Linked DNA regions of Homo sapiens. The protein of the gene in region 1 purifies or fractionates together with the protein of each later gene. This does not show direct contact. Each region holds a gene or a part of one and is shown in the gene's direction. Other genes may lie near its edges.

What was found.
Region 2: the proteins of NUDCD2 (region 1) and SSBP1 purify together in Homo sapiens (affinity purification with mass spectrometry, with the first as the bait; one large-scale study listed by BioGRID). This does not show direct contact.
Region 3: the proteins of NUDCD2 (region 1) and EIF3E purify together in Homo sapiens (affinity purification with mass spectrometry, with the first as the bait; one large-scale study listed by BioGRID). This does not show direct contact.
Region 4: the proteins of NUDCD2 (region 1) and G3BP2 purify together in Homo sapiens (affinity purification with mass spectrometry, with the first as the bait; one large-scale study listed by BioGRID). This does not show direct contact.
Region 5: the proteins of NUDCD2 (region 1) and CCDC50 purify together in Homo sapiens (affinity purification with mass spectrometry, with the first as the bait; one large-scale study listed by BioGRID). This does not show direct contact.
Region 6: the proteins of NUDCD2 (region 1) and SMC4 purify together in Homo sapiens (affinity purification with mass spectrometry, with the first as the bait; one large-scale study listed by BioGRID). This does not show direct contact.
Region 7: the proteins of NUDCD2 (region 1) and RGS14 purify together in Homo sapiens (affinity purification with mass spectrometry, with the first as the bait; one large-scale study listed by BioGRID). This does not show direct contact.

The regions. Positions count from the first base shown.
Region 1 is NC_000005.10:163,446,026-163,450,102, reverse strand, and holds the end of NUDCD2 (nudC domain-containing protein 2), read left to right. Parts: 3' UTR 1-3,577; downstream 3,578-4,077. UniProt on the Homo sapiens protein: May regulate the LIS1/dynein pathway by stabilizing LIS1 with Hsp90 chaperone.
Region 2 is NC_000007.14:141,744,858-141,748,357, forward strand, and holds part of SSBP1 (single-stranded DNA-binding protein, mitochondrial precursor), read left to right. Parts: intron 1-638; coding exon 639-727; coding exon of another isoform or gene 728-804; exon of another isoform or gene 805-2,480; intron 2,481-3,500.
Region 3 is NC_000008.11:108,238,718-108,242,217, reverse strand, and holds part of EIF3E (eukaryotic translation initiation factor 3 subunit E), read left to right. Parts: intron 1-304; coding exon 305-419; intron 420-2,142; coding exon 2,143-2,260; intron 2,261-3,500. UniProt on the Homo sapiens protein: Component of the eukaryotic translation initiation factor 3 (eIF-3) complex, which is required for several steps in the initiation of protein synthesis.
Region 4 is NC_000004.12:75,649,412-75,652,911, reverse strand, and holds part of G3BP2 (ras GTPase-activating protein-binding protein 2), read left to right. Parts: intron 1-3,500.
Region 5 is NC_000003.12:191,353,394-191,356,893, forward strand, and holds part of CCDC50 (coiled-coil domain-containing protein 50 long isoform), read left to right. Parts: intron 1-3,500.
Region 6 is NC_000003.12:160,416,650-160,420,149, forward strand, and holds part of SMC4 (structural maintenance of chromosomes protein 4), read left to right. Parts: intron 1-1,073; coding exon 1,074-1,307; intron 1,308-2,708; coding exon 2,709-2,894; intron 2,895-3,500. UniProt on the Homo sapiens protein: Central component of the condensin complex, a complex required for conversion of interphase chromatin into mitotic-like condense chromosomes.
Region 7 is NC_000005.10:177,364,424-177,367,923, forward strand, and holds part of RGS14 (regulator of G-protein signaling 14), read left to right. Parts: intron 1-1,539; coding exon 1,540-1,561; intron 1,562-1,753; coding exon 1,754-1,932; intron 1,933-2,284; coding exon 2,285-2,377; intron 2,378-2,467; coding exon 2,468-2,611; intron 2,612-2,990; coding exon 2,991-3,134; coding exon of another isoform or gene 3,135-3,290; coding exon 3,291-3,402; intron 3,403-3,500.

The DNA.
Region 1 (4,077 bases):
TATTTTTTATTTTTAGTAGAGTTGGGATTTCACCATATAGGCTAGGCTGGTCTTGAACTGACCTCAACGGATCTGCCCGCCTCAGCCTCTGAAGTGCTGGGATTACAGGCATGAGCCACCGTGCCCGGCCTATGGATTTTTTTCTTCTAAAAATTTTATAAATTTAGTTCTACATTTAGATCCGTGATCCATTTTAGGTTAATTTTTGTATAAGCTGTGAAATTTAGGTAGGTTTATTTTTTTGCATATGGATGTTCAGTTGTTTTAAAATCGTCTGTTGAAAAACTCTCCATTCCCCATTGAGTTGTCTTTTCACCTTTGTCAGAAATCAATTGCTATTTATGTGAGTCTGGTTTTGGACTTTATTCCATCGATCTATGTGTTTATCCTTTCATAAATACCAGATTGCCTTGATTATCACAGCTTTATAGTAAGTCTTAAAACTGGGCAGCATGATTCCTTCAAAATTTTTTTGAAATCTTTTTCAAAATTGTTTTGGCTAATTTAGTTTCTTTGCCTTCCATATGAATTTTAGAATTAGCTACTCTGTATCTACAAAAAATCCTACTGGGGTTTTGAATGCAATTTTGTGTCTTCCAATCCATGAACATGAGGTATCTATTTAGGACCTCTTTCATTTCAGTTATCAGCATTTTATGTCATTTTTCAGCATATATTCCACAGTGTTCATTTTGGAGGAACTATTGTTAAGTTGTATTATTTTTGAAACATGGGTTTCCAATTGCACATCGCTAGTATGTACAAATGTGTTTGATTTTTGTTTGTTGACCTTGTATCCTGTGACCTTGCTAAACTTCATTAGTTTTGGGAGTTATTTTGTTGTTAACTCATTAAGTTTTCTACATAAACTACGAATAGAAACAGTTTTATTTTATTCTTTTTAGTCTATGATTTTTCTTGCCTGATTTTGTTGTTAACTCATTAAGTTTTCTACATAAACTACGAATAGGAACAGTTTTATTTTATTCTTTTTAGTCTATGATTTTTCTTGCCTGATTGCAGTGGCCAGAACAATAACATGGAGAAAGTGGCCATCTCAGTCTTGTTCTGGATCTTAGGATTTTGAAAGCATTGTTTTTGACCATTATGTATGCAAGCTGTAGGCTTTTCTTAAATTCCCTTTGTCATGTTGAGCAAGTTCCCATCTATTAATTTGTTGTTAGCAGAGTTTCATGAGTGGATGCTGAATTTTCTATGCTCTTTCTGTATCAGTTTGGTCATTCTTTTTGTTTAGACTGTTAAAATCATGGATTTTACTGATTCCAGAATTTTGAAACAGCTTATATTTCCTCCCAACCCCAAACTTGGTCATGGTACATTATTCAGCTTATGTATCTAGATTTTTATTTTTTGAGGATTTTTATGTCTGTGTTCATTTTGGATATTGTGCAATTGTTTTTGTTTGTTTTTTCCTTGTGTTATCTTTATCTTGGTATGGTATCATGTTAATTCTGGTCTTGTAAAATGAATTGCAAAGTGATTATTCTTTCTGGAAGAGATTTGTAGAATTTGTTATATCTTTAAATGTTTTATGAATTTGCTAGTAAGGTTTTAAACAATGGTTCAATTTTTAAAAATAGAGAATTTATTGAGGTTTATTTAAGTTTGGGTACTGTATGCCTTTCAAGGAATTGGTTCATCTAATCCTATGTGCATAGAGTTGTTCATGGTATTTTCTTTGTGTCGTTCTAATGAGGATCTATACTGTTATCTTTTCTTTGATTCCTAAGATTGGAATCAAAGATTGGAATTCCTTCTCTTTTTTTGTCAATTTTGCCAGAGGTTTATCAATTTTACTGCTCTTTTCAAAAATTAGTTTTTTGATTGTTTTCTATTAATTTGTTTACAATTGCATTTATTTTCTGCCTCTTTTTTTTTTTTCTTCTTTCTGCTTGCTTTAGGTTTAGTTTGGGCTTCTTTTTTTTGTAGACAGGTCTCACTTCATCACCCAGACTGGAGTAGTGTTATGATCATAGCTCACTGCAGCCTCAAACTCGTGGGGTCATGATCCTCCTACCTCAGCCTTCTGAGTGGCTGGGACTATAGTGGTGTGCCACCACACCCAGTTAGATTTTCCTACTTTCTTAAAGTGGGAGCTTAGAGTGTTAATTTGAGAACTTTTTCTTGTTTAGTAAAAAGCAGTCGATTGTTATAAATTGCAGCACCAGCATGGCTGCATTCCAAGCACGGTGATATTTTCATTTATTTTAAAATATTTTTTAAGACTTCCCTGTAGTATCATGAGTTATTTAGAAATGTGTTGTTTAATTTCCAAGTGTTTGGAGATTTTCTTGCTGTTACTGATTTCTAGATTATGGTCAAAAAACATATTTTATATGATTTCATCTCTTTTAAATTTGTTAAGGTTTAAGACCCATGATGTGGTTTATCTTGGTGAGTGTTCCATGTGTACTTGAAAAGAATGCTTATTCTGCTGTTTTAGGTAGAAGGGTTTTATGTCAATTAAATCTAGCTGGTTATTAGTATTATTCCATTTTCCTACATCTTTGCTAATTTTCTATTAATTCTATGGACTACTGAGAGAGGAATGTTTAAGTTTCCAACTGTAAATGAAGATTTGTCCAGTCCTCCTTTTAATGCTACCACTTTTTGCTTCATGTTTTTTTTTTTTTTTTTGAGTCTTACCCTGTCACTCAGGCTGGAGCATAGCAACTCTGTCATGCTTCACTGCAGCCTCAAACTCCTGGGCTCAGACAGTCTTCCCACCTCAGGCTCCTCAGTACCTAGGACTACAGATGTATATCACTATGCCTAGCTAATTTTTGATTTTTTGTAGAGATAGGGTCTCCCTATGTTGAGTAGGCTGGTCTTGAACTCTTGGCCTCAAGCAATCCTCCCACCTTGGCTTCCCAAAGCATTGGAATTACAGGAATGAATGAGTCTCTGTACCTGGTCTCTTCATGTATTTTTAAGATCTGATAATAAGTGCTTACACTTTTAGCACTGTCTTGGTGAATTTTATCATTATATAATGTCCCTAATTATCCTTGGCAATTTTGGTTGTTCCTAACTCTACTTTGATGAATATAAAAATGGCTTTTTAATTTATTTTTTGAGACAAGAGCCTCACTCTGTTGCCCAGGTTGGAGAGCAGTGGTGTGATCTTGTCTCACTGCCTCACAGGTTCAAGCAATTCTCCTGCCTCAGTCTCTGGAGTAACTGGTACTACAGGCATGCGCCACCACACCCAGCTGATTTTTGTATTTTTAGTAGAGATGGGGTTTCACCATGTTGGCCATGCTGGTCTCGAACTCCTGGCCTCAAGTGATCCGTCCACCTTGGCCTCCCAAAGTGCTGGGATTACAGGTGTGAGCCACTGCGCTCGGCCTTAAAAATTGGCTTATCTTTTAATTCATCTTGACTCATGTTTACTGTTTTTTGGTTTCTGAAAAATAGATTTAATAAATAATAACATTTTATCAAAGTTATTAGTATAGAGAAATAAATTGAGTGTTGTTATTATTCTATGATCATGATGACAGCACAGAAGTTAATGTGGCCAGCATATAGTTTTGATTAAAAATTATACAAGCAATTTCACTTGAGTCCAATTAATCTTTTATTTTGAGAGGTAATGTATAGAGTGGTTAAGAGCACAGCCTCTGGAGTCAGAACTGCCTGGCTTTGAATCCTACCTCCAAGTACCAGGTATAGACCAGGGGCAAATCATTAGGTTCTCTGTCTCTCTTTCATTTGCAAATTGGGATAATGTCATTCAGTTGAGAGGATTTTAATGAGATGATTCATAGTACCAGAGAGTAAAAATTATCACTGCCAGCCACAAATGTTAAATCGAAAATATAAATTTTTAGATAGGATGTCTCATAATTGTAAATATGTACAAGGTTCAGATACTTTTTAAAAAATACTATGAAACATTATTAAATAAGTCTAAGGCAAGTCAATTATAAAAGGAGGCTTCTTTTATGAACAACTTTTCTTTCATCAGTAACTCCTTGCAGTGTCTACTTTACAGGATGTTAGTTTGAACATGAACTGTTCAAAATCATATTAATTAATTCAATTCCAGTAATA
Region 2 (3,500 bases), on another chromosome or scaffold:
ACTTTTTTGGTGGTGGTAGACTCTCAAAACTGGTACTATTGTCATCTTTCCACTCTTGAAAATCACGATTAGGTTTGTTATCTAGTTTAGCCTCTAGATAGTGTAGAAATAGTCTTAGTAATTACCTCTAAGTGGTATACTAAGCTGATACAGTGTAGAAATAGTCTTAGTAATTAACTCAGGGTAATATTATACTAAACTAACTACAAATCCATATTTTGAATTTTAATCATCTAAGTTTCTAAGGTCATAGAAAATAATTGATAAATAAGTGAAAATCAAGTCTGTTAGGGACTCCAAAATCAAAGGTCAAGGAAAATGATACATTGGAAATTATTCCTAGAGATTTAAATGTTGCCACTAAATTTCCCTTTGAACTGTTTTGTTTTATTTTTTAACTTCCGTAAGAGAAATAGCTGACAGATGAAAACATTGTCTGTTTTACCTAGATGTTACCAAGTCTGTTTGGACACTCTGTTTCAGTACTCCTAATCCTGAACCTTGAGAAGTGGTAGCAAAAATTAGCTTATATATGATTATATATTTCATCCTTGTCATATACTCAGTACCACCCTGACCTGACTCTTATAAAGCATATTAAGATCTCAACTAAAAACTGTACATTTTATTTATATCAGGTCTCGAATTTATTTGGAAGGGAAAATAGACTATGGTGAATACATGGATAAAAATAATGTGAGGCGACAAGCAACAACAATCATAGCTGGTAAGAAGCTTGTGAAAATAGCTGTTTTTTTCTTTTTCTCCTTTTCTTTTTTAAAAGCTTGGCTACACTGTAACTAACTAGGGTTAAGAGTACCAGTACTTATGAGTTAAGGCAACTCACTAGAAGATGTCCATAACTCTTATTTCTCTACTTGCTAAGAGTTTGTACATTTATCCCTTCCTTTAAAAAATTATTTTTATACTTACAGTTTTAGTCACAAGTAACTTTTGAATAAAGCCTAAAACTGAATTATCCATCCCAGTACTTATTGTTGAGAATTACAAAAACTCTGAATGTATTGTCTTTTGGAAGGATCTAGCCCTAACCAGGAAGAAGCGTATGCCAAGATAAGAATTACACTAATGTGAGTGTGCAGATTTATTCGGAACCTCTTTGGTACTTAGTATGTGAAATTTCTATTTGAAATTAAGATTTTTTTAATTTTATTTTTTTTGAGCCAGAATCTCACTCTGTCACCCAGGCTGGAGTGCAATGGCACAATCTCGGCTCATTGCAACCTCTGTCTCCTGGATTCAAGTGATTCTCCTGCCTCAGCCTCCTGAGTAGCTAGGATTATAGGTGCGTGCCACACCACCTGGCTAATTTTTGTAATTTTCGTAGAGGCGGGGTTTCACCATGTTGGTCAGGCTGGTCTTGAACTCCTGACCTCAGGTGATCCATCCACCTCGGCCTCCCAAAGTTGTGAGATTACAGGCATGAGCCACTGTGCCCAGCCAAGAAGTTTTTAATTTTCTCTTTTTTTGTTTTTGTTTTGAGACAGGGTCTCCCTCTGTCAACCAGGCTGGAGTGCAATGGTGTGATCACAGCTTACTGCAGCCTCTACCTCCCCAGGCTCAGGTGATCTTCCCACCTCAGCCTTCTCCCAAGTAGCTGGGACAACAGGTGTACACCATCATGCCTGGCTAATTTGTCAATTTTTTTGTAGAGATGAGGTTTCACCATGTTGCCCAGGCTGGTCTCAAACTGCTGGGCTCAAATGATCCTCCCACCTTAGCCTCCCCAAATACTGGAATTACAGGCATGAGCCATTATGCCCGGCCTAATATTCTCTTTAAACAAAATACAGTACAACATAGAAAAGATGTACACGTAAAGGTTAAAGAAGATTAAGAAGATATCCCTTAGGAAAGAGTTTTTAAACTTTTGAAAATGCTATAAGAATTTTGAAAATAATATACCCCTCTGGATGTCTGCAAGCGACATTAAGAAATTTTTTTCAATACAAAATTGTGTTATTTTTAAATGTATCAATGGAATCTAAATAGCATAGCAATGTGATACCTACTATCCTGTAAAAAAATACCAGTTCAGCATTTGGAAATTTTCCATTATTCTTTTTTCTTTGAACTTGTTTTACTGTTTTTATTTTCCCCTCAGAAGTGTATCTTAATAGTATATGGTATAGTTAAGAACTTTTTATTACCCTGTTTGTAACAAAAATGCATGCATAAAAGAAACTTTAAAATATTTAAAAGAATTCTATGACAAATTCTTCTCAATTGACTTATCATTAAAGTTGTTTTTAGTACCTAATTGATCAAAACAATTTTAATGTATTTAAATTATATTGGAAATATGTCTTTAAATGAGATAGATGGTGCTTTTTTCACTTCTTGAGTAAATTGCTAAAATTAGACATTGTGAATTTTGTGCTTTTGTTTGCTTTTATGGACATAAATACTAAGAAAGCTTTTTAAAATAAATACATGGCAATAAACTAAATTTTACTATATTAATGTTTCTGTGTTTATGAACTTCTGAGATATGCCCAAATTAGATTTTTTTTTTTTTTTTTTTTTTTTGAGACAGCGTCTCACTCTGTTGCCCCGGCTAGAGTACAGTGACACGATCCTGGCTCACTGCAACCTTCGCCTCCCGGGTTCAAGCGATTCTCCTGCCTCAGCCTCCTGAGTAGCTGGGACTACAGGCACGCGCCACCACGCCCAGCTAATTTTTGTATTTGTAGTAGAGATGGGGTTTCACCATATTGGCCAGGCTGGTCTCGAACTCCTGACCTCGTGATCTGCCCACTTCAGCCTCCCAAAGTGCTGGGATTACAGGCGTGAGCCACCGTGCCCGGCTAGATAATATTTTTTAAAAATTGATTTTTGGGCTGGATGCAGTGGCTCACGCCTGTAATCCCAGGCCTTTGGGAGGCTGAGGTGGGTGGATCATTTGAAGTCAAGAGTTCAAGACCAGCCTGGGAACATGGTGAAACCCTGTCTCTACACAAAATGCAAAAAGTAGCCGGGTCTAGTAATGCGTGTCTGTAGTCCCAGCTACTCAGGAGGCTGAGTCATGAGAATTGCTTGAACCCAGGAGGCAGTGTTTGTAGCGAATTGAGATCACACCACTGCACTCCAGCCTGGGCAATAGAGGAAGACTCTCTCAAAAAAAAAAAAAAAAAAAAAATTTTTTTTTTTTTACTATGGAAAATGTCAAACATGTATAAGAGCAGAAAAAATGGTAAAATGAACTCCTACCATTTCGCTTCAGTGTCAGCTGATGGACAGTGTTATATCCATGCCTCCAGCGACTTGACCTACACCTGGATTATTTTGAAACAGATTCTAGACATAAGTTTATTCATAAATTTCCATAGGGATCTCTAAAAGATAAGGTGTCTTTTTGAAAATGTAACTACCGTGCTATTATCACACCTAATATTAATAAATTACTGTTAATTTTTTTACTAAATATCGTAGTGTTCAAATTTCCTTGATAACTTCATAAACATTCATACATTATATTA
Region 3 (3,500 bases), on another chromosome or scaffold:
AGAAAGGGTAAGAGATGGTTTGTAGGGACACATAAAAAATAAGGTCATGTAAATCAGAAGTAGGTGGGAATGTCTACAGTAATTCTCTTCATTTTAAAATTTTTAGGTAAGTAAAATACTTTTACGTCTATAGGTTGGTTGCTTGCCATATTGCTTGCCATTATTACAAGAGGGGAATGTTAATGGTTTATCGTATTTTATAAAGTATTTCTTGAAATATATTTCCAGGTAAATTAGTTTTAGTATTAATCAGTTTATTTGGGGAACTTAAATATATTCATTAGAAAGTTATCTTCTTTTGCAGATATATAATGAAAAGGAATTATTACAAGGTAAATTGGACCTTCTTAGTGATACCAACATGGTAGACTTTGCTATGGATGTATACAAAAACCTTTATTCTGATGATATTCCTCATGGTAAGTTTTGTCATTAGAACTGAAACTTGTCTTGTGACTTGAGGATGTGTGTATTAAAGTTTTATGATTTATAAGACAGCTTTAGCCAAAAGGCTTAAATATGATTTGAATGTTAATGTTCTTTGGGTGAGAGGTTATATAAAGGTTTCATATCTTCCGAAATATATTGTTTTCTCCCTGTGAAAGATGTGGAACTACTTTAAAATATGGTCATCAGATGCCTTCATTTCATAGTATGTATCATCAAAGTTGTGCTTATGATTCACATTCCTTAGAATTATCTGAGAATGTTGCAGTTCTTGGGTTGCTAACTTTTTCAGTTAGTGCATTGTGTGCCTTAGAGTTTTGTGTTTTTTTTTTTAATTTTGAGGCATCTAGTGTAGACATTGTTCTCCAAATATGGTCCCCAGGACCAGCATCATCAGTTCACCTGGGAGAGCTTGTTAGAAATGCAGGTTTTTGGCCACACACCAGACCTACTTAATCAAAACTGTTAAGTGGTCCTCTTAAGTTTGGGAAATAATTCTGTGTCATTTCTTCAATGCACATTACATTTTTAAAGGTTCCAAGAATTTTGGCAGTAGAGAAATACAGTATACTGTGATTAAATTGGCATTTCTCAAAATTTGATCATAGATCTTCTGTGTTTCAGAAAGACTGCTCTAGAATATACTTTCTAATATATAATACAGACATTATTACATTAAACATAATCCACATGTTTGACTTGTAGTTCCCTGCAATAACAGTATCTCTTTTTTAGTTTGTCATGGATAAACAAAAAGGAAACTATTTCTTAGTTTCTTTCTTTTTTTTTTTGAGATGGAGTCTCGCTGTGTTGCCCGGGCTGGAGTGCAGTGGTGCGATCTCGGCTCACTGTAAGCTCCGCCTCCCGGGTTCACGCCATTCTCCTGCCTCAGCCTCCCGAGTAGCTGGGACTACAGGTGCCCACCACCATGCCCAGCTAATTTTTGTATTTTTAGTAGAGACGGGGTTTCACCATATTGGCCAGGCTGGTCTTGAACTCCTGACCTCGTGATCAGCCCGCCTTGGCCTCCCAAGTTGCTGGGGTTACAGGCGTGCGCCCTTGCCCCTGGCCTATTTCTTAGTTTCTTAATGAAACATTAAGGTGTTACCAGAGTTGGTTATGTGCAAGTTTTCTCCACCTTTTCATAGTATAGTAAAAGGAACGATAGAATTTGGTTTGAGAGATTATAGAGCTGGATTTGTGGTTAAAAGAGATTATTTAATGGATTTAAATTCCATTCAACCTAGTTGATAACCTGTAATAGTAATATGTAAATCCCTCTGAGTTTTTCTTCAAAAACTCTGGGATAATATTCACCTAAGAAAATTAAATGAGAACAAATATAAAAACACTTGGAAAGAAGTTTCTGCAATGGAGAATTAAATGATAGATAATTGGGTCCTACCCTTTTTTTCTTTCACATCCCTCTGTCACCCCAAGGCTGTATATTCTCTAGTTTCCCTCAAGAGTAGGAAGAGGATTCCCTTTTCCTTTTTGTGCCTTTGTATTAGTAGAAAAAAGAAATTAGGGATCGGGGACATTTCTGACTGAGTAGCCCATGGCATATGAATATATTGGGGGTAAATAAATATATGTATAGTTTAAATACACTGAAAAATTTCCAGACATTCTCATGATGAGTAGCACAATTTAACATTCCTTAACATTGTAGTGCTCTTCTGCATTTTTAATTAGCTTTGAGAGAGAAAAGAACCACAGTGGTTGCACAACTGAAACAGCTTCAGGCAGAAACAGAACCAATTGTGAAGATGTTTGAAGATCCAGAAACTACAAGGCAAATGCAGTCAACCAGGTAAACTCGTCTTAATTTTGAATTCTAAAAATTCTCCTTTCTGGATTAATACAAATGTTAATTCAAACTTTATCCAGTATCCCATAGTAAAAGTTCATGGTTTAAATGAGTGCTTTATTCATTTTTAATTTTTGTTTATCCTTATTTTGTAGGGGCCAGTATAATTAATAAATGTTAATATTAACACTAAGTTTTTTTCCTAAAAAAAACTTCTTTAGTACTTATCTATACTGATTATACTACAGAAATTCCATCTCCTGTTTCCCCCTTCCTGGGGACATTTGGCAATGTCTGGAAATACTTTTTGGTTGTCATAACTGGAGGGGTGCTATAGGGACCTAGTGAGTAGAGGCCAGTTATGCTGTTAAACATCCTACAGTGCATAGGACAAGCACTGCTGCCGCTACTCCCCAACAAAGAATTATCCGACTGAAAATGTCCATTAAGAAACCCTGTTCCACTGTGTGGTGGCTCACACCTGTAATCTCAGCACTTGGGGAGGTGGAGGCAAGTGAATCCGTTGAGCCTAGGAGTTTGAGACCAGCCTGGGCAACATGGCGAAACCCTCTATCTTACCAAAAAATTAAAACCAATAAAAAGTTAGCCAGGTGTGGTGGTGTGCGCTTGTAGTCTCAGCTTACTTGCTACTTGGGAGGCTGAGGTCAGAGGATGGCTTGAGCCCGGGAGGCGGAGGTTGCAATGAGTCAGTGTCATAATACCACTGCATTCCAAAGTAGGTGACATAATGAGACACCATCTCAGGAAAAAATAAAAAAGAAACCCTGTGCTTGGGCAATACCTAGAACCTTAGAACACATGGGTATCTCGTTATAAGAGAAACCTGAGCTCACTTTATCCCTGGCTACATTCTTTCATACCCTTCCAAGCTCCATGCCCAAGGAGGGTAGTTTTGAGCTGATAAGATTATTTTATTCCTAACTTCCCTTTACCTACAAATAGACGTTACTGTTTCGTTTCCAAAGAAAACATATTGCCTTAGTCTGACGTAGTACATGTCACGGGTGGAAGTCTTTTGGGTTACTAGAAACATTTAAAAATAAAATCTCTTACTAAAATTGAATATTGTCATTTGAGATAAATCCTAGCTACCAGTAAATTCACTTGAGGAATTGCTGGATATTTTGCCGTGCTATACCTTTGATTTCTATGTATTTAAACCAAATTTTTAGAGATTGGCTCTTAAGTTTTCCTTTGTGATTTGTGAAGGTGTTACCAGATA
Region 4 (3,500 bases), on another chromosome or scaffold:
ATTATTTCATTTCAGAGAGTTTAAACAGTTAAAAGTTAAAATAGCTAGTGCTTATGCCTTTGATATGCGCCAAGCATTGTGTGAAGCACTTTTTGTTCATTTTCAGTGAATCCTCACAACCACCCTGTCAGGGTGGGTACTATTGTTTCTGTTTTAGAGATCAAAAAATTGAGGTCTAGAGTAACTCACAGACATTTATGTACATAGTAGGGTTGGGCTTTGAAGTCATGCAGTGGGACATGAGTCCATATGTGGCTCATGTAAACGTTTATTTTTTTGAGACAGAGTCTCGCTCTGTCGCCCAGGCTGGAGTGCAGTGGTAGTGGCAGTGGCGTTATCTTAGCTCACTGCAACCTCCACCTCCCCAGCTCAAGTGATTCTCCTGCCTCAGCCTCCCGAATAGCTGGGATTGTAGGTGCCCGCCACCACGCCTGGCTAATTTTTGTATATTTAGTAGAGACGGGGTTTCACCATGTAGACCAGGCTGGTCTCAAACTCCTGACCCAAGTGATCCACCCGCATTGGCCTCCCAAACGGTGGGGATTACAGGCATGAGCCACTGCGCCCAGCCTCATGTAAACCTTATGCAATTCTCCAGCACCTTGCTGCAGAGTCATGTATCTTATCTGTATTTGCATCAAAGAGGACTCTTAAGACATGCCTGATTAAATCCTAGTCTCTTGCCCAGAAAAATACCTTCATATTTATCTCAAGTAGTTTGCCTTAAATATATTTTCAAAGTTAGTTGTAGGAAATGAAGTTGTATTTCCTATGCCACCCCTTTAATAAAACAAAAATTTTAAATGTTTAGAATTTAAACTTTAAAAGAACGTTCTAATGTCTTTAGGCTATACTTAAAATGGATTCATGATATTTCTACTTGATTTAATAATCCTTCAATTTTAGTTTGTTACTTTTGTGTAGTATTCATTTCCTTGTACTTTGAACATAGATTATTGATAAAAGGAAGTTAATTCCAGGGTATTGGTAGGCATTAACTTAGAAGTAGGTAAGTTAATTTCTTGAATAAAATATTTTGTCTGGAAATTGACTAGTTCACCTACAAAGCTTATGTTTAATTGAAGGGCTTATTATTTGTGGTTATACCTGCTTTTATTGACTTGATTTGATGGTTCTGTACTTACTTCATATTCTGTTTGACCTTCATTTGTGGGTTTGTCATTTGATCATACTTTCTGGTTGCATGGAATTAATTTTAAGGCCCTCTACTGTGTGGCATATTGGCCATGTTATCTGTTCAGAAAAACTAGTTTTAATCATGAAACTGGAGACCTGAAGAATTATAAGTATGCAGCTGACTTAGTTAACATATGTCAATCAGTTACTGAAAGGGACAGTGTTAGCTTTTTGTTCTTGTATTTTTCTTAAACTGGCATCATCAGATATCTACTTAAAGTCAGATTCCTAAATCAATGGCATGAATTATTTGTAAGATGTTGGAAATTATTAATATTTAACTTTATCTGTTTTTAATTTTCATCCTTAAAGAATAAGGAAGAACTTTATTTTGCTACTTGTAGTTACTCGTGTTTTGATAATCTGTTTTGAAAAGAATTTAAATCAGTCAAGACCAGGGCCTCAAGTTCTTTGATAACATTTGGATTGAATGAGTCTAAGGTTTTTCTTAAATTTTGTAATAAAGGTGCATTTAGTGTTTTTATTAATTGCCAGTAATACACTCACTTTATTAAACTTTGACAGAGTACGTTTATTCTCTAATTCTGTTTATATTCATACTGAAGTATGCCTTTAGACCCCCTTAGTTGAAGTTTCTAAATAACTGCCTTTTTCAGCATCACATTTTGCATCAAATTATTATATAGAATTAAACCCCAAATACAGATAGCGGTGGTCTCAGGGCTGTCACTTACGTATCTTTGTCAGACATAGAACATTATCCTGCATGTTTTGGGTCAGAGAACTAAAAATGTAATTTAATTTAAATGAACAAATAGTTACTGAACATCTGTGTCTAATAGCACTGTGCTTGGTTCTTTGGGTGATGTAAAAGTAAGTTAAGATATGGGCCTTGGGCACTGGCGTGCCTGTAGTCTCAGCTGCTTGGGAGGCTGAGGCAGGAGGATCACTTGAGCCTAGGAATTTGAGGTTACAGTGAGCTATGATTGTGCCACTGCACTCCAGCCTGGGCAATAGAGTAAGACTGTGTCTCTCTAAAAAAATAAAAGATACAGACTTTATAGGAGTAAATACATATAAATAACAACAAAACCTGGAGAGAGTTAAAAATATTCATTTTATAACTAGTAGAATTCTAGAATATGGTAAGCAACTTCATCTTGAGGGAAATAGGACATTGACATAGAGGAAAACAGAATTTAGGAAGAGGCAGGCAAACTTGGTTAAACTGTTAGCATAGGAGTTAATATTCCTTTTGGTTACAGTGGCTGAAATCATTTACATTAAATTGTCATTTTTGAAAGAAGCTTTTTTTTTTTTTTTTTTTGAGATGGAGTTTCTCTCTTGTTGCCCAGGCTGGAGTACAATGATCTGCTCACGCAACCTCCGCCTCCCAGGTTCAAGTGATTCTCCTGCCTCAGCCTCCCTAGTAGCTGGGATTACAGGCATGTGCCACCACACCCGGCTGATTTTGTATTTTTAGTAGAGACAGGGTTTCTCCATGTTAGTCAGGCTGGTCTCGAACTCCCGACCTCAGGTGATCTGCCCGCCTCGGCCTCCCAAAGTGCTGGGGTGATAGGCATGAGCTACTGTGCCTGGCTGAAGGAAGCATTTTTGTGTCAGAATTTGTCCTTGTAAATTACAATATCTGTTATATAAATGATTAAAGAGTTTGAGCCGCTGCATGGACTGAGGTCCTCAGAGATGACCACTTTTTTATTTATTTACTTATTTATTTCTGTGAGAAGGAGTTTCACTCTTGTTGCCCAGGCTGGAGTGCAGTGGCGTGATCTTGGCTCACTGCAACCTCCGTCTTCCGGGTTCAAGCGATTCTCCTGCCTCAGCCTCCCAAGTAGCTGGGGTTACAGGTGCCTGCCACCACACCCAGCTAATTTTTTGTATTTTTAGTAGAGACTGGGTTTCGCCATATTGGGCAGGCTGGTCTCAAACTCCTGACCTCAGGTGATCCGCGCAGCTTGGCCTCCCAAAGTGCTGGGATTACATGGAGATGACCATCTTTAAAGATGGGACTGAAATTACTAGCTTTCTGAGTTGAGGACATGTTCTCCATATCCTGTTGGGTGTTTTCAGCATCCTTTGTAGGCTCATATATTTGTCTCTCCTTGGACCATAAATATTTGGGTAGTAGAAGGTCTGAAGAGGTTGGGAATACTGAAAATGCTGTTGTCTTGAGGAAAAGGTAATAGCAGACGCCGATGTAATTTTGTTTTAAAAATAATTATATGTTTAATTCAGCAGTTGGCAGAAACTTTTGGGAGGCATCTTAAACTGTCCTATTACTCCCAGACCCCTAGTTAAGGAAAATCGTTGGGACCAATACT
Region 5 (3,500 bases), on another chromosome or scaffold:
AAAGTTTGAGAAATGGGAGGGTGAAAGGTGGTTCACCTTAAATGTGCCCACAGAGAAAGGTGGGAAGATGAGTGTATGCCGTTTATCCTCAGTAGGCTGTTTATGCTGTTTACATCGAAGGCAGAGGAGGTTAGAAAAGGAGAAAAGTTCTCTTCATGCTCTGAGCGTGGCCTGGCTGTGAAATAGTTTCAGTAATTCTCAATCTGGTTACTGATTTACAAAGTTGACTGAATATGTGATTGTTTTCCAGGTTGTGCTAGAATACTGATGGAGGGAATACAGAGGCAAATCTTGAAAAAAATTAGAGTGGGTTCAGAAGAAATTATATATTGGGCAAGTAATATTTCAGTATAAATGAGATTATATGTTTGGAAACTCCTAGTAACCTCCGAAGGGCAAAGTCAGTGTATTTGACAATACAACTCTCTGTGTGTATGTGTTCATGTACTTCCTCATAATCATTGAAAATCTTCCAGATCCCCTTCTAGCTCAGGCCCTCCTCATATCTTTTGGGTACTAGTTCAGCTTCTGCAGATTCAGGGACAAATTGCAATAATAGAATATACTTCAGTCTTGCTGTTGAGATAGTAAGAAATCATTATGAGGAGTCATCAAGGTAATCAGCAATTCGGAAATTTCTCACACCTGTTATAATGTGTCAAACCATATCTTCATGTTCATGGTTTAGCAATATGTGCTGTTGACAACATGAAATAAGTGAATTTAATTATAGAACTTAAAATGTAATATGTAAGACATTTAAAAAGCACAGGAAATAGAAAAACCCATGAACCTACCACCCACATCAAATGTTAATATTTTGCCTTATTGTGTATCTTTTCTCTTTTTGCTTTTGAAGCAGAATGGCTCATGCAGCTAAGGCACTCATGCCCCTCTTCGTCTCTCTGGAGAGAGAACTACTGTTTGGAGTTAAGTTTGTGTCAGTGCCATATTATTAAAAAAATTTTTTTTAACCATAGGTATATCTATCTACAAACTATATTTTAATGTTTAATGTTCTGCTGACTGAAGTTAAGAAATATTTTTAAAATTATTGTAGTTCTTCACATGATTCTCCACATGGAAAAATGTAATAATTTCATAATTTTTAATTTTAGTTAGCATGGTATTAGAAACATAGAAAACATATTTTTGGCGTAACGTTCTGACCTAATAACATAAATTGAAGTGGCTTTTAAGCTTTTTGTAATCTATAGAATGATGTGTGTTTTACATTTTGACCTAGTACCTATCATCTCTGTATGTATATATTTCTGTGATGTTTATATATAATACGGGAAAAGTTTCCCCAAACTAGTTTCCTGTACTGTGTGTGATTTATACTAGTCCCTTCGTATTTGTGGGGTGGGGTGTAGAGGTGGTTCCAAGACCTCACATGGATACTAAAAATCTATGGATACTTCAGCCCCTAATATAAAATGGGGTAGTATTTGCATATAATTCATACATATTCTACTGTATACTTCACATTGTCTGTAGATTACTTATACTACCTAATACCGTTCATTTAGGAAACAATGATAAGAAAAAATGTCTGTATGTATTCAGTACAGCCACATTTTTTTTTCCTGAATATTTTTTATTTGTGGTTGATTTAATCCATGAATCCAAAACTCAGGGCTATGAGAGCCAACTGTCCTCTGTTATTCTCTAGACTATTGACTTTTAAAATGCCTTTCTCAGGCTTAGTAAATTGATTTTTTGACCTAATAATAGATTGCCACCCATAATTTGAAAATCATTAAGAGTAATCTTAAATTTGATCTAATCATAATTAATCTAAAATTAAGACTGACTTTTAATATATAAGCACAAGCTTTTCCAGTATAATAAAGGTGTTTTAAATGATAGGTCAATACATTAAAATAACATTCTTTACACAAGATTTGATTATATTTATTTTAGCTAATTCATTAATTTTTGTAAATTAAGTCCGTGTATGTCTTACCCATTTAAAAATTAGATATTAATTAATTGAAGTGTTTTAGAGAATATGCGATGGTTAATGTAGAATATTTTCTTTCTGTCTATTCTTACCATGATTTACCTGGAGGGAAGGAGGGCCATCATTGTGTCAGGGAAGGGGAAGGAGCTCTTGAGCTCTTGCTGGCTTAGATGTTGACCCCCAAGCCCTGTCACCAGTGAACTCTGTACAGCCTTAGAAAACCCCTTCTTCCTTCTGGCTTTCAGTTTCCTCACTTATTAAATGAGGGTGTTATCTAGCTCATCTTGAAACTACTTTTATTCTGTGAAACATAAGGTAACTAGGACCTGGGCTTCAAGATATTAGAATCGGTTGAGAATATGAAAAGCTGATGAAAAAGAACAGGGCTTTCTGTTCGAATTACTGGTTTTGCTGTTATGTTTGAGCGAGGATTAAGCAGGTTGTATCCAGTTGAATATAGTTCTTGGGCAAGAATTATTCCTCCATTATAAAACCATTTCAAAATAATCTTGACCTCCCCAAGATCTCCCTCCCTTTTTGTGGCATTATCCCTCAGTCGTGAAGGACACAACTAATGTTGAGTGTATATGTGAACATACATAAGTGCAAAGAACGGCAAAGGAACGTTTTTCATTCTGTTTCAGTTAAGTGTCCTCATAGGCAAATCCAAAGCTTCGGAAAGAAATCTATCACTTTTCCTAAGCCCTGGGGAATGTTTCATGAGTCCTACTCAATTGCAGTAATCTGAGGCTTTGGGGAATTTCCTTTTTTTAACATGAATTACATGCTTGGAATAGAGTGAGAACATATCACCTAAACTACACGTCCTTAAAACAGCACTTTACATGATGAATCCTTCATGTTTTGTCTGTTTGTATGTTTACGAAGCAGGAGTTTAAATTGCAGCTTGGGGTAAACATGGATACCATTGTTTACCCCAAACCATTTCTTCAAGACCATTTCTTCCCATTTTGCTTCTGAGAAGACAGGTCAGGAAATGCCCTTGCCTGGCTCTTCAGGTGGAGGCAGAGTTGGGGCAGATTCCTGGTTTCCTTCAGGGTTCCCATTTTCTTTTGGTTTGTAGATTATTTTGGGGCAGCCCAAGGTTTAGAGGGACCTAGAGACCTAGTTCTAACTCATGTCCCTGGGGATTGACCCACTGAAGAATGTTTAAGAAATTAAGAATTTTTAAAGTAGAGCTCTGCCCCTACCTGAGGGACTAGTGAAAATATATTTTTTCTTGAAAGACGCCAGGGTAGACATAAATTGCTGGGAGAGGATCGTCTGAACCACAGGGAAGCATAGATTAGATTTCTTTTAACACCTCTAATTATGCAGTAACTCAGTTCTCTCTCAGTAGCAATATGCAAAGCATGACTGATACGTCTGTTATTTCAGCAGCACTTAACCCTCCATTTATAGAAGTGGATTGGAATTTCTAGACCTCTGGAATCTGATTCTGTAAATGTTCTCACCTCAGGCCAGGGGCCAAGGCTAACCAGTATTTTGTGACACCCTGTGCTTGGCACTAAGC
Region 6 (3,500 bases), on another chromosome or scaffold:
AATACAGTACCTTGATTATTATATATGCCACTCCTAAGCGTGTTGAATCATCATATTTTGTTGCCACCTGTAAAACCTGGAGCCACACTAAGCGCAGGTTAATGTCTCTTTTGTTTTTGCTTCTATAGCTCTTGTGTAATAGTTAAAAGCTGTGGCTCTTGTTTCAGTTCTTGGTTCAAATCCTAGGTCAATCACTTACTGTCTCTGTTCTTGTGCCGGTTGTCATATCTCCAAGTCATCTTCCTTAAAATGAGAAAGAATATATCTACTTTGTGAAAATAAAGAATAAATATATCTATATAACGTACTGAGAAAGAAAATAAATGTTAGCTATAATTTTAGCATTATATTAATAAAACGAGAGCATGAAGTTGTCACATTGATATGTATTATCTACCCCAACAAGAGTAAGCATAAAATTATCTTTGTTTGTATGTACCACAGCATTTTTGACAGTGCTAAGCATGTTAAATACCTATGTTAATGGATAATGGTAATTGACTGCATTAAAAAGTCATGGTAGAGTCTGCTTTGGCATATCAACATGTTCTAATGTCAAACTATAAAACTTAACAGGTTAGAATACCTGTGTGATGAAGTGTCACTTAATAGAGTCTGCTTTGGAATATGGACATGTTCTAATGTCAGATTATAAAACTTTACAGGTTAGAATACCTGTGTGATAAAGTGTCAATGGATAATGCAGTAGCTTTCATGATGGGATACTTCATAGTTAGTGGATTTTCACTGTTTGCTTATTTAATATATATTGAGTACTCATGTGCCCTGCACCCCATGTTAATGACAAAGCTAGGCCTCAAATGTCTTTATTCCTCAGCGTAATGATCGATCTCACAAAGCTCTTGTGAAATCAGTTGGGAAAAGACTATGTACAGTGAATATTGACAACTAGGCAAAAACTGAATCTAGTCCACTTGTGAGAATTTCTTATTTCTATATACTGTGCTTATAGAATCTCCTTTCTTAAATCGAATATAAAATGTATGGTTTCATTTCAGTGTAGGTTTGAAAGTAAATATCTGTCCAGATTTAATGAACTCATATTTTAACAGAGTCGAGAGAAAGAACTTATGGGTTTCAGCAAATCGGTAAATGAAGCACGTTCAAAGATGGATGTAGCCCAGTCAGAACTTGATATCTATCTCAGTCGTCATAATACTGCAGTGTCTCAATTAACTAAGGCTAAGGAAGCTCTAATTGCAGCTTCTGAGACTCTCAAAGAAAGGAAAGCTGCAATCAGAGATATAGAAGGAAAACTCCCTCAAACTGAACAAGAATTAAAGGAGGTAAATCTTTGCTTCTCTGTTGCATCAGAACATCATTCGTCCACTTCAGCTTTATACATTTTTGTTTTTAATCTCCGCGTCAGAGGTGACTAGTGATAAATTTTCTTCATTTTGTATAATCTCAAAAGAATGAGGTCAGCATTTCAGTATTCCATATGTGAACTGAGACTATCAAGAAACTATATTATCCCCAGAAGCACCATATAGTAAGTAAATCACCACCACCACCCCACTGTAGAAATAATTTAAACAAAAGAAAGTTTGTGTTTCTTTAAATCTTAAGTATAGACAATTTAAAGATAAATAAAAAACAAGTGTATATGTATTTATATAATGAATATACAAACAACTATCTTAATGTGTTTTGGGTTTTGAATTTATGGATGTAGTTTCTTTGCTTGCATTCCAAAATGTTATAAACTAACTAAGATGTATAGCTTATCGGTGCCTGTCCCCCATCCTTGAGTGAATTAGATGTCTAAGGAATTTCGTAAACTTTAATCTCCAAAGATCTCCAAAACCTCAGTAGGCAAGGTGGCAATAAAAAAAAAATCTGTTTGAAGTGTAATTATACTGAAAATAAATATGAGTCTTTTTCATTTTAGTTAATGCATGCTATTTGGTCATCAGGGAATTTCATGACCAGGTAGAATTTAAATGTAAATTAAGTTAGATCCAGTGACTGCTTCTGTCTTCCTGGGATTCGGTTTCTTTTGGGATGAATTATGTCAGTAACTTGGTTTAAACTTTATGCCAGTACAGTAAGTAATAGACATAATTTAAATCTAGTGGATGGAGGAATATACCAGTTAGAAAAGATGGCTGCTGAGAAGTTGGAGATTGAGAAACAGAGGTTGTGTTTATGTGTGCATGTTTGTGGTTCCTTTCTTGTTGGGAGCCTGGCATTTTTGTATAGCAATAGGACTATCCAGTCATCTTTCGTTTCAGAGGTGTGCTTTTTCTCCAGTACCCCCCAGCCCCGTTCAGCTAAAATAAAGCACAGCATAACCGTAGTCCTGCCCAGTCATTTTCTGGGTCAGCTTTTCATTAGGGCAGAGCTGAAGAATTAGGGCACACTTATGTATAACTATGTAGTATCAAACTGGGATTTCCACAGCCCCAGCTATACTTCTCTATCAGGATGAACTGTTTGCTCCTGAAAAAAATATTACACCTAATGTTTTCTTTTATTGACCCAAGTAATTTATGCCCCTTTTAAACCCATCCATATTTTCCACAACCAAACCAGCAATTGCCATACAGGTGCTCAGTTTTGGTTCAAATTTTTATTGTTGGTCTTTCTTTCTTTATTGTTATTAAAGCATTACAACTAATTCAGTGCTATGACTGGTCATATTTAGAAGTTAATGCTTCTGGATTTCATTTTATTTTCACTTTTAGAAAGAAAAAGAACTTCAAAAACTTACACAAGAAGAAACAAACTTTAAAAGTTTGGTTCATGATCTCTTTCAAAAAGTTGAAGAAGCAAAGAGCTCATTAGCAATGAATCGAAGTAGGGGGAAAGTCCTTGATGCAATAATTCAAGAAAAAAAATCTGGCAGGATTCCAGGAATATATGGAAGATTGGTAAAGTAGATTTTTGGGGGGCATGGCTTTACTTTTTTTTTTTAAGAAAGTGTAACTTATTTTTTTGCCTTGACAACCATATTTCAAGTGTCACTGTATATAAAATAAGATTCATTTTGTTTGTTTTAAGGCACATTTATTTTTAAACATTTTGCCCTTACAGTTTCTTGTTTACTTAGCTTTAGATAAATACAATTATTTCATACATATCAAGAAAAATACTAGTAATGTCACACAAACTTAAAACCATTTTATCCTTTTTTTTAAAAGAGAGACTTTAGCCAGGCACAATGGTGTGTGCCTGTAGTCCCAGCTGTTGGAGAGGCAGAGGCAGAAGGATCACTTGAGCCTAGGAGTTCAAGTCCATCCTGGGCAATATAGCAAGACTGTTTTTTAAAAAATGAAAATTAAAAAAAATTTTTTTATATATTTGGGGTTTCACACCATTTTACTTAGGTTTGGGCTAGCATTTAAGGATATAACAAGGGATAATCTAAAAATCCAAGGCTAGCAATAGTGAGGACCATTACTGCTTCTTAGCTTCGAGGGAAGGGAGTTGTGGTCCAGAGGAGATGGGGAAAATGGATACCTTAACCCCACCTATTT
Region 7 (3,500 bases), about 14 Mb from region 1:
GGACTTCCATTTGGGAGCTTGAGGGCTTGTGGGACATTTGAGGGGGGACTCGCCCCCCTCCGCTGGGCTGCCTGGCCCTGCCCTCCTCGCGCACACCCTGAGCCTCTGTCCTGCCCTCTAACCCCAAGTCAGGGGTGATAGGCGCTGGAGCCGTTACCAGGAAGTTGGTTATGTGTGTCTGGAGCTGTGGATCTGTGGATGGGACAAAGTGCCCAGGACAGAGCCAGAGAGGGGTTGAGGCCACATTGCATGAGTGGGAGATAGTGGGGAAGCTGGAGGAGCTGCTAGGAAGGTAAAAAGAGAAACAAGAGAAACCACCGCAAGAGTCATTTTGAGAGGAGAGTTTTTCTGTTTCACTAATGATTGGGATTCCCAGAGAAACCAGAGTTGTGCACTGGGGGCAAGGATGGAGTTAGTTACTGCAGCAGTACTACTCACAGAGTAGTCCCTGAACCAGCAGCATCAGCATCGCCTGGGAGCTTGGTAGAAATGGACAGCCTCAGGCCCCATCTTGGACCTACTGAACCTGAATCTCCAGAGGTGGGGTCCTCCCACTCTGCACTGAAGTTTGAGAACCACTGCTCTGTACTATAGACCAGCATCTTGTGCCCTCCCACGGTGGTAATGGGACCCTGGGCCCAATAGGCAACACGTGCGATAGTAAGATCACTGGCTGCAGAGACACCTCTCCTTCCTCAAAGACAGCACATGTTTATACAGCCCATATCACATGCTGGCCCATGTTCTAGATGCTGTGGATATATTTTTATTTGATTTTCTTTTATTGAGACGGAGCTTTGCTCTTGTCACCCGGGCTGGAGGGCAATGCCACAATCTCAGCTCACTGCAACCTCTGCCTCCTGGGTTCAAGCGATTCTCCTGCCTCAGCCTCCCGAGTAGCTGGGATTACAGGCATCCACAACCACATCCAGCTAATTTTTTTTTTTTTTTGTATTTTTAGTAGAGACTGGGTTTCACCATGTTGGCCAGGCTGGTCTCGAACTCCTGACCTCAGGTGATCCACCCATCTCGGCCTCCCAAAGTGCTGGGATTACAGGCGTGAGCCACCGTGTCCAGCCAATGCTGTGAATATATTAAACTGACTTGATCTTTACATCAAGATGGAAGCAAATGGTTTGCCTCCATTTGTAAATAGGCATTATCTCCTATTTACAGATTACAGATGGAGGCAAACAAGTTAACTAACTTGCCCAAAGTTACACAGCTAGTAAGTGGCAGAGACTAAAGTCTGTTCCTACCCACCATGCTATGCACACCTGGCTCACCCAGCAGGGGCTGGGGGAGGAGGGAACCAGGGGCTGCTGGAAGGTACCTGCCATAAGTCCCAGTACTTAGTGGTTGGCACAGGATGGAAGGGGAGCCAGGGGCAGACTGAGGAAAACCCTGACCAAGTAGAACCTGGCCGGGGATGCCCAGGTGGAGGAGAACGCAGTTCCAGCTCCTGGGAGTCGGGCCCAGAACTGTCCCCTGGGAATCCTCACTGGGCTCTTCTGACTTTCTCTGTTGGGTCTCTTATAGGTTCTGGCTGTGTCAGATGGAGGTAAGTGACAGAATGTGTGGAGAACTGGCTGAGTGGGAGGGAGGAGGGAGGTGGAGATGGGTGGGGACACCCCTGCCACCTGCTATCTTTCCAGGGAACATGGCTGCAGAGTGGATGCATGGGGGAGGGTGGGTTGTGCCAGGGGCTGGGGAAGGCAGCAAGGCTCACCCCAACTTGTCCATCCCCCTGCAGAGCTGAGCAGCACGACGGGGCCCCAGGGCCAGGGCGAGGGCCGCGGCAGCTCTCTCAGCATCCACAGCCTCCCCAGTGGTCCCAGCAGCCCCTTCCCAACCGAGGAGCAGCCTGTGGCCAGCTGGGCCCTGTCCTTCGAGCGGCTGTTGCAGGACCCGCTGGGCCTGGCTTACTTCACTGTAAGCCTGGGGTAGGGAAAGGGAAGGGGGGACACGGGAGAGGGCAGGGCGTGGATGGAGCTTCAGGCTGGCCAGAGTGGGGTCCTCTGTCAGCTTCCTCATCTAGCCTTCCTGCAGCACCCTCTTCCTCTTCTCCCAGCTGGGAACTTTTCTTCCTTCTCCCTGTCCTTGTCTCTGCCTCTCATTTTCTCTCCCTGTCTTCAGATCGGTCTGGCTCCGTCTGTCTGTCTGGCCCTGTCTGTCTGGCTTGGTCTCTTGGCCCTGTCTCTGTCCCAATCTTTTTGATCACATCCCCCAGTTTGGTCTCTGTGTCTCTGAGTCTCTGCCTGCCTCCCCCTCCTTCCCCTCCCAGGAGTTCCTGAAGAAGGAGTTCAGCGCGGAAAACGTGACTTTCTGGAAGGCCTGCGAGCGCTTCCAGCAGATCCCGGCCAGCGATACCCAGCAGGTGGGGGAAGGGGGAGCTGGGGCCGAGGGCTGGGGAGAGGGGAACTGGGCCACGCTCCCTGACCAACTCCTCCTGTCCCTCCTCCTTCAGCTAGCTCAGGAGGCCCGCAACATCTACCAGGAGTTCCTGTCCAGCCAGGCGCTGAGCCCAGTGAACATCGACCGTCAGGCCTGGCTTGGCGAGGAGGTGCTGGCCGAGCCCCGGCCGGACATGTTTCGGGCACAGCAGCTTCAGGTGGGCGATCCTGGGGGGATTGGCCTTGAAAGGGAGACAAAAGGAGCAGGGGCGGGGTCGGACCCTGGCGGGGAGTCTGAACTACAAAGCGGAGGGGGCAAATTTGGAGGCGGAGACAGAGCCAAATGCCGGGGCAGGCAGGGCGGAGCTCAGAGGGCGGTATCAGAGGCACGGGGAAGGACAGTTAGAGGCGGAGCCTAGCTGAGCTCGGGGCGGGCTTGGACCCCGGGGGTGGGTATAGGAACTGAGGTCGGGGCGGGGCTTGGGAAATCCAGCCCTAGGTTTGGGGCGGGGCCAGCCCCAAGGACCCGGCCTGGGTGCAGGCAGCCCAGCGCCCCCACCCCAGCCCCGGCTCACCTGTTCCGGGGTCGCCCCGCAGATCTTCAACTTGATGAAGTTCGACAGCTATGCGCGCTTCGTCAAGTCCCCGCTGTACCGCGAGTGCCTGCTAGCCGAAGCCGAGGGACGCCCTCTGCGGGAACCTGGCTCCTCGCGCCTCGGCAGCCCTGACGCCACGAGGAAGGTGCGTGGGACTGGGCGAGGGACTGGGCGAGGCAGGGGGTCCTGCGGACCGCGTGCAAGAGGGGACGCCTCCGGGTGCAGATCTGCGAGTCTGTGCCCACGGTCTGCATGCGGGCTGGGGCCCAGCCCGGTGCCAGCGCCTCCCCTGTACCCACAGAAGCCGAAGCTGAAGCCCGGGAAGTCGCTGCCGCTGGGTGTGGAGGAGTTGGGGCAGCTGCCACCCGTTGAGGGTCCTGGGGGCCGCCCTCTCCGCAAGTCCTTCCGCCGGGGTGAGGGCAGGAGCGAGCAACAGAGATGTGGGGAAGGCGGGAGTTTGGTTAAATTTGGGGAGTGCCCCCTTCCTCCTACGTGGCCCACAGTCTGTAAG